Linked DNA regions of Homo sapiens. The protein of the gene in region 1 interacts with the protein of each later gene in a pairwise test. Each region holds a gene or a part of one and is shown on either strand. Other genes may lie near its edges.

Region 1 (7,037 bases):
AGGCCTAGGTGGGCAGATCACGAGGTCAGGAGATCGATACCATCCTGGCTAACACGGTGAAACCCCGTCTCTACTAAAAATACAAAAAATTAGCTGGGCGTGGTGGCGGGCGCCTGTAGTCCCAGCTACTCGGGAGGCTGCGGCAGGAGACTGGTGTGAACCCGGGAGGCGGAGCTTGCAGTGAGCCGAGATCACGCCACTGCACTCCAGCCTGGGCGACAGAACGAGACTCTGTCTCAAAAAAAAAAAAAAAAAAATTGCCGGGCATGGTGATGCATGCCTGTAGTCCCAGCTACTCAGGAGGCTAAGGCAGGAGAATCACTTGAACCTGTGAGGTGGAGGATGCAGTAAGCTGGGATTGGGCCACTGCCCTCCAGCCTGGGCGACAGAGCGAGACTCCGTCTCAAAAATAAATAAATAAATAAATATTTTCCTCATTGTGATGTGATGTGAGGTTTCTCAGCCTCACACGTGATAAGTGCACAATCCTCCTGTCCCCTCCCTAGATCTCATTGTTTCCAGAACAAAGATGGATCTGTCCAGCACAGCCTTTAGACTCTGAATCCCGGATGGCTAACATCATATGCAGAGCGTGAGATGGACACACTTGTGGCACCCTCGTAAATCACTGCTTCACTCGGCACAGGAGCTCAGATTCTTCTCCTTTTGTCCTGTGTTCCCTATTCTGTGCAAGGCAGATATCCTCTTATTTTATTTTATTTATTTTGGTGTTTTTTGAGACAGAGGCTCTCTCTGTCACCCAGGCTGCAGTGCAGTGGCGCCATCTCAGCTCACTGCAACCTCCGCCTGCTGGGTTCAAGCAATTCTCCTGCCTCAGCCTCCTGAGTAGCTGGGATTACAGGTGCCTGCCACCATGTCTGGCTAATTTTTTGTATTTTTAGTAGAGATGGGGTTTCACCATGCTGGCCAGGCTGGTCTTGAACTCCTGACCTTGTGATCTGCCCACCTCGGCCTCCCAAAGCGCTGGGATTACAGGCGTGAGCCACCGTACCTGGCCAGATATCCCTTTATTTATTTGTTTGTTTGTTTGTTTATTTTTATTTATTTAGAGACAGGGTTTCACTCTTGTTGCCCAGGCTGGAATGAAGTGGCACAATCTCAGCTCACCGCAACCTCCGCCTCCTGGGTTCAAGCAATTCTCCTGCCTAAGCCTCCTGAGTAGCTGGGATTATAGGCATTCACCACCAAGCCCGGCTAATTTTGTATTTTTTTCTTAGTAGAGCCGGGGTTTCACCATGTTCACGGGGCTGGTCTTGAACTCCTGACTTCAGGTGATCCACCCGTCTCGGCCTCCCCAAGTGCTGGGATTATAGGCGTGAGTCACCGCACCCAGCCGATATCCATTTATTAAATGTCTCAGAGGGCCGGGTGTGGTGGCTCATGCCTGTAATCCCAACACTTGGGGAGTCCGGGGGGGGCGGATCACGAGGTCAAGAGATCGAGACCATCCTTGCCAACATGGTGAGACGTCCTTGACCTGATGTCACTTTTTCTGTCTGTTTTGCAGATTTCTAACAGGCAGTTGCCCTGGGCCACCTGGTGGCCTGAAATAACTTGACCGGGAACTAAAAGGACTCACGAAGCATTTAACCAAGACTCTACATGTTGACTTTTCAGCCAAGGACACTTCAGAGCGACTGGCTGCAGTTCTCCAAAGGAAGCTGCTGCCAGTTGCCCCTGGGGGGTTATTTCCTTCTTGGACATCATGACCACAATGGCAGAAATGCATTGATGGCCAGCACTCTGGGGATGAATGTTTTTGAGTGGAAATGAAACATACCAAACTGGTTAAAGACAAAAATGCAGAGTTGGACAAGTTCTGCAGGTCACGAAAGGCCTTTGAAGCAGCCAGGCCCGGTTCCTGCTCTGCTGTATGGGAGGCTGCTGGCCTGAGCTGGAGAGCAGAAAGGCCCAGTGCCAAGGGTTCAGCAAGTACCAGTCCCAGGCCAGGCATTTGCTAATAAGCCAGGGTGACAGTAAGGACAAGGGGACTCTGGTGTGATGTGAGGTTTCTCAGCCTCACTTGTCACACGTGATAACTGCACAACCCTCCTGTCCCCTCCAGGCCTGTGTGAGACAGGAAAGGTGAGGCTGCCTCTCCCTCTGCACCTTAAAGCCACTCGGGGTCTGGGTTTTCCTGAGACTTCCCGGAGCCAGATGCAGACTCCCAAAGGCGCCGATCCTTCCTCGATCTCCCTCCCTCAAGAGTGGCACTAATCAGGTCTAATTTAGAGAAAATCCATCACCTCCCCCCACTGTGGGCTCTGCCACTTCATGCCTTGGTCTCTCCACCTATCAGCCAGCTGGAGCCTGGGACTCAAGGAGGCATGCTTGGAAGTAAGGAACTTCTCTGAGTACGAGGACATCTGGGTGGTGCTGAACACCAGCATGCTTTGCCCCGTGGCCTGGACTGTGCACAGGGCACCTAGAGTGACCTGTCACCTCCCACGCAGGTGGAAGGGTGTGAGAGAGAATGGGCACTCAGTTACAAACATCCCCTTCCCAAACACTTGTGGATCTGAGTCTGAGGCTACTCCTTCCAGGTGAGGGGTTGGCTGCTGTTGTAGCTTGTTACTCTCTTTCTGTCCCTTCTGCCCTCAGGTCTTGACCATGCAGCTTCCCAAGAACAGGATGGGGAATGATATGGGCACATGGGGAGGCAAGCAGCCACAGGCCTCACCTGCTCATGGGCACTGACCGTCCCAACAGCAGGTGGACATGAATCTAACCCACAGACACCAGAGTAGAGGGAGCTGGGCTCCCTGAGTCTGGATGGGGTTCTCACAGGCCCCCACAGGGAGACAAGGGAAGCTTTCTCCAGAATGTGGAGTACGGACTCACTGTGTGAATAAAGTAAATGAGCTGGAGGGGGCGGGACAAGATTTCAAAAAGCACCACTCATACACCCAGGACTGGCAAAGCTGCTGGCAGTAAGCTCTATCATGGGGCTCCCCCACTGCAGGTGAGCTGATTGGCCTCAGCTGGCACCATCCATGCTCAGTGTTTGCCCTGAGGACAAGAAGACATGGCAAAAAAGAGGAAAGTACAGAACACACTCCCACCTGGCTGGTGGGGATATAGATAGTGCAGCTGCTGTGGAAACCTTCAGCTCCACAGAAAGGTAAAGATGGAGCTACCACACCCCGAGTAATTCCACCCCTAGGTATCCACCCAAGAGAAATGAACTCAGGCATTCAAGCAAACACTGGCTCACAGATGTTCAGAGCAGCGCTGTTCACAGTAGCCAAAATGGAGAAACAAGCCAAGTATATAAAATGACAAATGCATAAATAAGATGTGGTATATCCATAGAATGGGATATTATTCAGCCATAAAAATGGATGAGTACTAACACATACTGCAACATGGACTTTAGAAAACATGGAAAGTAAAAGCAGTGAGTCACAAAAGACCACATATTGCATAATTCCATTTATACGATATATCCAGAATAGGCAAATCCACAGAGACAGAAAGTAGACTGGTGGTCGCCAGGGGCTGAGGGGAAAGAGTGGGGAGTAATTGCTTTACGGGTATCAAGTTTTGGGGTAATTAAAATGTTCTGGAAATTATAGTGGTGATGGTTGCACAACATAGTGAATATATTAAAACCTAAAAAATATACTAAAACCTGGCCAGGCGGTGGTTCACACTTGTAATCCCCGCACTTTGGGAGGCGAAGGTGGGAAGATTACTTGAGGCCAGTTCGAGACCAGCCTGGCCAAAATGTCGAAACCCCATCTCTGCTAAAAATACAAAAATTAGCCGGGTGTGGTGGCACATTCCTGTAGTCCCAGCTACTTGGGAGACTGAGGCAGAGAATCACTGGAACCTGGGAGGTGGAGGCTGCAGTGAGCCGAGATCGCACCACTGCACTCCAGCCTGGGCGACTGAGCAAGACTCCATCTCAAAAAAAAAAAATTATATATATATATACACACACACAAAAACATGGCCGGGCACAGTGGCTCACGCCTGTAATCCCAACACTTTAGGAGGCTGAGGCAGGTGGATCACTTGAGGTCAGGAGTTCGAGACCACCCTGGCCAACATGGTGAAACCCTGTCTATACTAAAAATATGAAAATTAGCCAGGTGTGGTGGCAGGCGCCTGTAGTCCCAGCTACTTGAGAGGCTGAGGCAGAATTGCTTGAACCTGGGAGGAGGAGGTTGCAATGAGCCGAGATCACAACACTGTACTCCAGCCTGGGCAACAGAGCGAGAATCTGTCTCAAAAAAAAAAAAAAGTATATATATATATATATATATATATATATATATATATATATAAAATTACATATATACTTAAGAGTATATATTTATATAGAATGTAAATATATATTAGAGATATATATATACTAAAACCCAACCTGAATTGTAAAATGGTTCATTTGTTACATGATTTATATATTTTTGTTTTGTTTTGTTTTGTTTTGTTTTTTTGAGACGGAGTCTCCCTCTGTCACCCAAGCTGGAGTGCAGTGGTGTGATCTCAGCTCACTGCAACCTCTGCCTCCCGCGTTCAAGCAAGTCTCCTGCCTCAGCCTCCTGAGTAGCTGGGATTACAGGCATGTGCCACCAAGAACGGCTAATTTTTGTATTTTTAGTGGAGATGGGATTTCACCATGTTGGTCAGGCTGGTCTCGAACTCCTGACCTCATGATCCGCCTGCCTCGGCCTCCCAAAGTGCTGGGATTACAGGTGTGAGCCACCTCGCCCAGCTGATTTATATCTTTTTTTTTTTTTTTAAAGCAGAATGCACCCATGCCACAGTGCTCCTTCCTGCAGCCTGTCAGGCGTCGGCCCACCCTGCAACATCCAGGATGTCATTTGAGCCCTGGTCACACGAAAGCACTGCATGGGATGAAGGTGGTTTATTTATTTATTTTTATTTTATTATTTATTTATTTTTTTGACACAGAGTCTCGTTCTGTTGCCCAGGCTGGAGTGCAGTGACACAATCTCGGCTCACTGCAACCTCTGCCTCCCAGGTTCAAGCAATTCTCCTGCCTCAGCCTGGCGAGTAGCTGGGATTACAGGTGCCTGCCCCCACGCCCAGCTAATTTTTGTATTTTCAGTAGAGATGAGGTTTCACCCTGTTGGCCTGGCTGGTCTCAAACTCCTGGCCTCAAGTGATCCCCCTGCCTCAGCTTCCCAAAGGTGCTGGGATCACAGGCACAAGCCACTGCGCCCGGCCGAAGGTGGTTTCTTTTAAGCAATACATTTGTATTGAGAAAAACAAGTTCTTGGCCGGGCGCGGTGGCTCACGCCTGTAATTCCAGCACTTTGGGAGGCCGAGGCGGGCGGATCACGAGGTCAAGAGATCGAGACCATCCTGGCTAACACGGTGAAACCCCATCTCTACTAAAAAAAATACAAAAAATTAGCCGGGTGTGGTGGCAGGCGCCTGTAGTCCCAGCTACTCCGGAGGCTGAGGCAGGAGAATGGCTTGAACCCGGGAGGCAGAGCTTGCCATAAGTCAAAATCAGGCCACTACACTCCAGCCTGGGTGACAGAGCAAGACTCTGTCTCAAAAAAAAAAAAAAAAAAAAAAAAAAAAAAAAAAAAAGAAAGAAAAGAAAAAAGGAAAAAAAAAGAGAAAAACAAGTTCTTTTAAATCTCTAGGTAAAAATAAAATAATTTCTCACACACAGCCAAGTCAACTGCATACCAGAGTACCAAGCATAGTTTCCACATCAGAGGCTTAAGCTCTGGGGTAAAAGCATTTTCTTTAACCAGGTGTCTGTTAATTCACTCATATCAAAGAGAAAACTTGGCTGGGTGTAGTGGCTTATGCCTATAATCCCAGCACTTTGTGAAGCCAAGGTGGGTGGATGGCTTGAGCCCAGGAGTTAGAGACCAGCCTGGGCAGTATGGTGAAACCCTGTCTCTATTAAAAAAAAAAAAAAAAATGGCCGGACGTGGTGACTCATGCCTGTAATCCCAACACTTTGGGAGGCCAAGGTGGGTGGATCACGAGGTCAGGAGATTGAGACCAGCCTGGCTAACATGGTGAAACCCCATCTCTACTAAAAATACAAAAAATTAGCCAGGCGAGGTGGCGCGCACCTGTAATCCCAGATACTCGGGAGGCTGAGACAGGAGAATCACTGGAATCCGGGAGGCGGAGGTTGCAGTGAGCCAAGATCGTGCCACTGCACTCCAGCCTGGGCGACAGAGCGAGACTCCGTCAAAAAAAAAAAAAAAAGGCTGGGCGCAGTGGCTCACACCAGTAATCCCAGCACTTTGGGAGGTGGGCAGATCACGAGGTCAGGAGATTGAGACCATCCTGGCTAACATGGTGAAATCCCGTCTCTACTAAAAAATAGAAAAAATTAGCCAGGTGTGGTGGTGGGCGCCTGCAGGAGAATGGTGTGAACCCGGGAGGCGGAGCTTGTAGTGAGCCGAGATCTTGCCACTGCACTCCAGCCTGGGTGACAGAACGAGACTCCATCTCAAAAAAAAAACTATCCAGGTGTGGTGGTGCAAGCCTGTAGCCCCAGCTGTCAGGAAGCTAAGGTGGGATGATCGCTTGAGCCTGGGAGATTGAGGCTGCAGTGAGCTACAATTGCACCACTGCACGCCAGCCTGGGCAACACAGTGAGACCACATCTCAAAAAAAGAAAGCAAAGAAAACTCTTCATTAGAAACTGAACATGCTCGCTGGGAATGATATTCAGGGCACAGGGCAATTCCTTACAGGGGCACACACCCAAGGGCACTGCTGCCACCACATGGGAAGTTGTGACGGGAGGGAGGAGACTGAGGGCAGGACACAAGACATGGAGACACACATTCTGGTCTGTCTGACCATGGAGCTCTGTCCACACCCAGGCTGCCTGCTGGCTCCCAACCACCACACACAGTATCTGGCGTTTCTCACAGGTGTCGGCTTCTCTCTCTCGAGTCCATCTGCTGGCCGTGGACCTGGCTATTCGGGGCAGGCCCATCCTGCCCACCTCCCCACACTCTCTCAAGCCTCTGTCTCTGAGCACTGCAGGTTTTGTAGTGTTCCCT
Region 2 (2,889 bases), on another chromosome or scaffold:
ACCTGGAGCGGCCGTTTTTGGAGACAGGCCTGGCAGGACCTCCTGGAGGGCTAGGTGTGGGGGTGGGAGCTGCAGTTGGGTGATTCCAGGGGCCCCGGTGTGAGTTGTGGGAGGCAAAGCCCCCTTGCTGGGGCAGGGAAGGTACAGCCTATTGGCCTGCGGGGCCTCATGAGCCCTCAACCAAGTGGGGCAAGGAGGAGGCTGTGCTTAGCACGGGCTTGGCTTTTAAAGCCAGGGGCTGGATGAGGGCATCAGCAAGGCTGGTCCAAGGTGGGGTCAGGGAAGACGTTGGGCACCAAGGTGGGGAGTGGGCGCCGGAGGTCCCGGCAGGATGGAGGGACCAGGAATGTGGGCGTCGGGGCACCAGTGGCACCACAGGAGAGGAGCCACTGACATCCTGGGCACCGCCTGCCCCCAGGTGAACACACCCGCAGCCGAGGTGCTCTACACAGTCATCCAGGACTGGGCCCAATTGGATGCGGGGAGCATGGTGCTGGACGTGTGCTGTGGCACCGGCACCATTGGCCTGGCCCTGGCCCGGGTGAGCCCTCCTGCCCTGCTGAGGGCACCCTCTCCCCACCCCAAGACCCCCATTGACCCCAGCTCAAAGTCACCACAGCTGACTCCATCATGCCCCAGGCCCAGCTCCTCTTTGCTGCCCACAGGGCCCCATGTACTCCCCTCCCTGGGTGGGGCGACACCACGCTTTCCTGTTTCAGAAGGTAAAGAGGGTCATTGGGGTCGAGCTATGCCCAGAGGCTGTGGAGGACGCCCGGGTGAACGCCCAGGACAATGGTGAGTGGCAAGGCCGTGGGTGGGGGTGGGGATGGGGGCAGCCGCCACCCCTGCTGCAAGCCTCAGCCACAGCCAGGGCTTGGGGGCTGCCCGACAGGTAGAGCAAGTGAGCAAGCTCTTTGGCTAGGGGTTCCCCAGGGCTGGCCCTGCTGGGAGGGCATGTGGCCCTCTGACAGGCCACGGTGCCATCTCTTCAGAGTTGAGTAATGTGGAGTTCCACTGCGGGAGGGCCGAGGACCTGGTGCCCACCCTGGTGAGCAGACTGGCCTCCCAGCACCTCGTGGCCATCCTGGACCCACCCCGTGCTGGCTTGCGTGAGTGGCTTTTGCTTAAGGAGGTGGCACGGGAACGAGGACACATGGGGTGGCTCACCATGTTATGCACTCTCTGGCTGTGGGGACCCAGCTGGTGTTTGCCTCCTCAGATTCCAAGGTGATCCTGGCCATCCGGAGAGCTAAGAACCTCAGGCGGCTGCTGTACGTCTCATGCAACCCCCGGGCAGCCATGGGCAACTTTGTGGAGTGAGTGTCTGCAGGGGCCTGGGTGGGGGCTAGGCCTGCTACCAAGCCCCCAGCTCCCACAGGAGCCCCTGATTAGCCTATCGGCTGACCTTAGCGCCCCCCTTTTCCCCCCACAGCCTCTGCAGAGCCCCATCTAACCGGGTGAAGGGCATTCCCTTCCGGCCGGTCAAGGCTGTGGCAGTGGACCTGTTCCCGCAGACCCCGCACTGTGAGATGCTCATCCTGTTTGAGAGGGTGGAGCACCCCAATGGCACAGGGGTCTTGGGGCCCCACAGCCCTCCAGCTCAACCCACACCAGGACCCCCAGATAACACCCTACAAGAAACTGGGACCTTCCCCTCATCCTAGGCCCAGGACCCATTATGGGGACAGGAGCTGAAGGGCTCCCAGGGCCCCAGGGGCGGGGAAGGCATGGCTTGCTGGCCAGGATATTCAGAGGTAGGCAGCCAAAGGGCACAGAACCCTGTGCCCCACCAGGATTGGCCTGCTGCTAGGGGCCAGGGGCCCTGACCAGGAAGACAGGTGGGTTCCTGTAGCCTGTTGCCCATCCCCAGGGCCTTTGTGGACTAGCCAAGGCTGTGAGGGCCAGAATAAACAACTGCTCAACAAAGGGTGTTTCTGTGATGAGAGCCAGGGGTCTGAACACAGGGCCTGGGTGCCAGGGAAAGGGCCAAACTAGGCCTAGGCAGCTCTGCAAGCCTCTCTGCATGGCTGGGGGAGTCAGGGCAGAGCTTACTTTAAAAAAGAATGTTCGATTTGATACTTAAACTTGAGGAGAGGCAGAGAGAGGTCTGGGAACTGCACCAGCTGGGGGCATGGGGTGGAGAACACTGGGCAGAGTTGGCCCCTCTGTGGCCAGCCTGGCCCTCAGCCCAGCAGAGAGGGCATCAACCAAGGAAGGGGCCATGCTGGGGTGCTGCTCAGCTGTTACAAAGGCAGGGTCCAGCCTGCAGGGAGGCCCCAGGAGGGGATCTGGCCAGTCAAGGGTCCACAGGGTGCCAGCCTCTCACCCTCAGAATAAAGACATCAGCCATTCCCTTCTGGACAGTTTGCTTTATGTGTTCAGACAATCAAGGCTCGCCTTCCAGGCACAGCCCAGTGCCCTGGATGGCATCAGCACAGGCTCCCCTGCCCCGGCCTTGAAGCATGGCTGTGTGCACGATTCATACCCATGCTTGGCAGACGGGTGGGGGGGGGGGGGGGGCGCACAGAGACCACAAGAGTATGGCAGCACCTGCTGTGGTGGTGCCTGGGAACAGCAAGACACAGCGAGGCTCCCCAACCTTTAGGGGAACACATGTGCACGAAGCTTTGGTTCACAGGCGCATCTGGCTGGCTAAGGGCAACAGTCACAGTCAAATGACTATTCACAGCTGCAGACAGGAGGCAAGACAGAAGCAAGTGTCTAATTATAGCAATTTGAGTTGAGGGTTTCTTTTTTAAAGGTCAACAGAAGCCAACCTTGGTCACACAGGTAGTGAGGGAAGGATATGTTGTGGGCGGCCCACAGGCCAACATTGTTTTCCTGACAGAAAAAAAAAAAAAAGCGCCATCAGTACCGCCTGTAGGGGGC

Evidence for each region. The genes of interacting proteins can lie anywhere in the genome.
Region 2: the proteins of ZNF837 (region 1) and TRMT2A interact in binary tests that used the Homo sapiens proteins (3 or more experiments, as listed by UniProt).

Annotation. Positions count from the first base shown.
Region 1 is NC_000019.10:58,371,003-58,378,039, forward strand, and holds part of ZNF837 (zinc finger protein 837), read right to left. Parts: exon of another isoform or gene 6,581-7,037; intron 3,652-6,580; exon of another isoform or gene 1,540-3,651; intron 1-1,539. UniProt on the Homo sapiens protein: May be involved in transcriptional regulation.
Region 2 is NC_000022.11:20,111,338-20,114,226, reverse strand, and holds the end of TRMT2A (tRNA (uracil-5-)-methyltransferase homolog A), read left to right. Parts: intron 1-418; coding exon 419-541; intron 542-665; coding exon of another isoform or gene 666-719; coding exon 720-795; intron 796-992; coding exon 993-1,109; intron 1,110-1,219; coding exon 1,220-1,316; intron 1,317-1,410; coding exon of another isoform or gene 1,411-1,432; coding exon 1,433-1,664; 3' UTR 1,665-2,352; downstream 2,353-2,889. UniProt on the Homo sapiens protein: S-adenosyl-L-methionine-dependent methyltransferase that catalyzes the formation of 5-methyl-uridine in tRNAs and some mRNAs. Mainly catalyzes the methylation of uridine at position 54 (m5U54) in cytosolic tRNAs.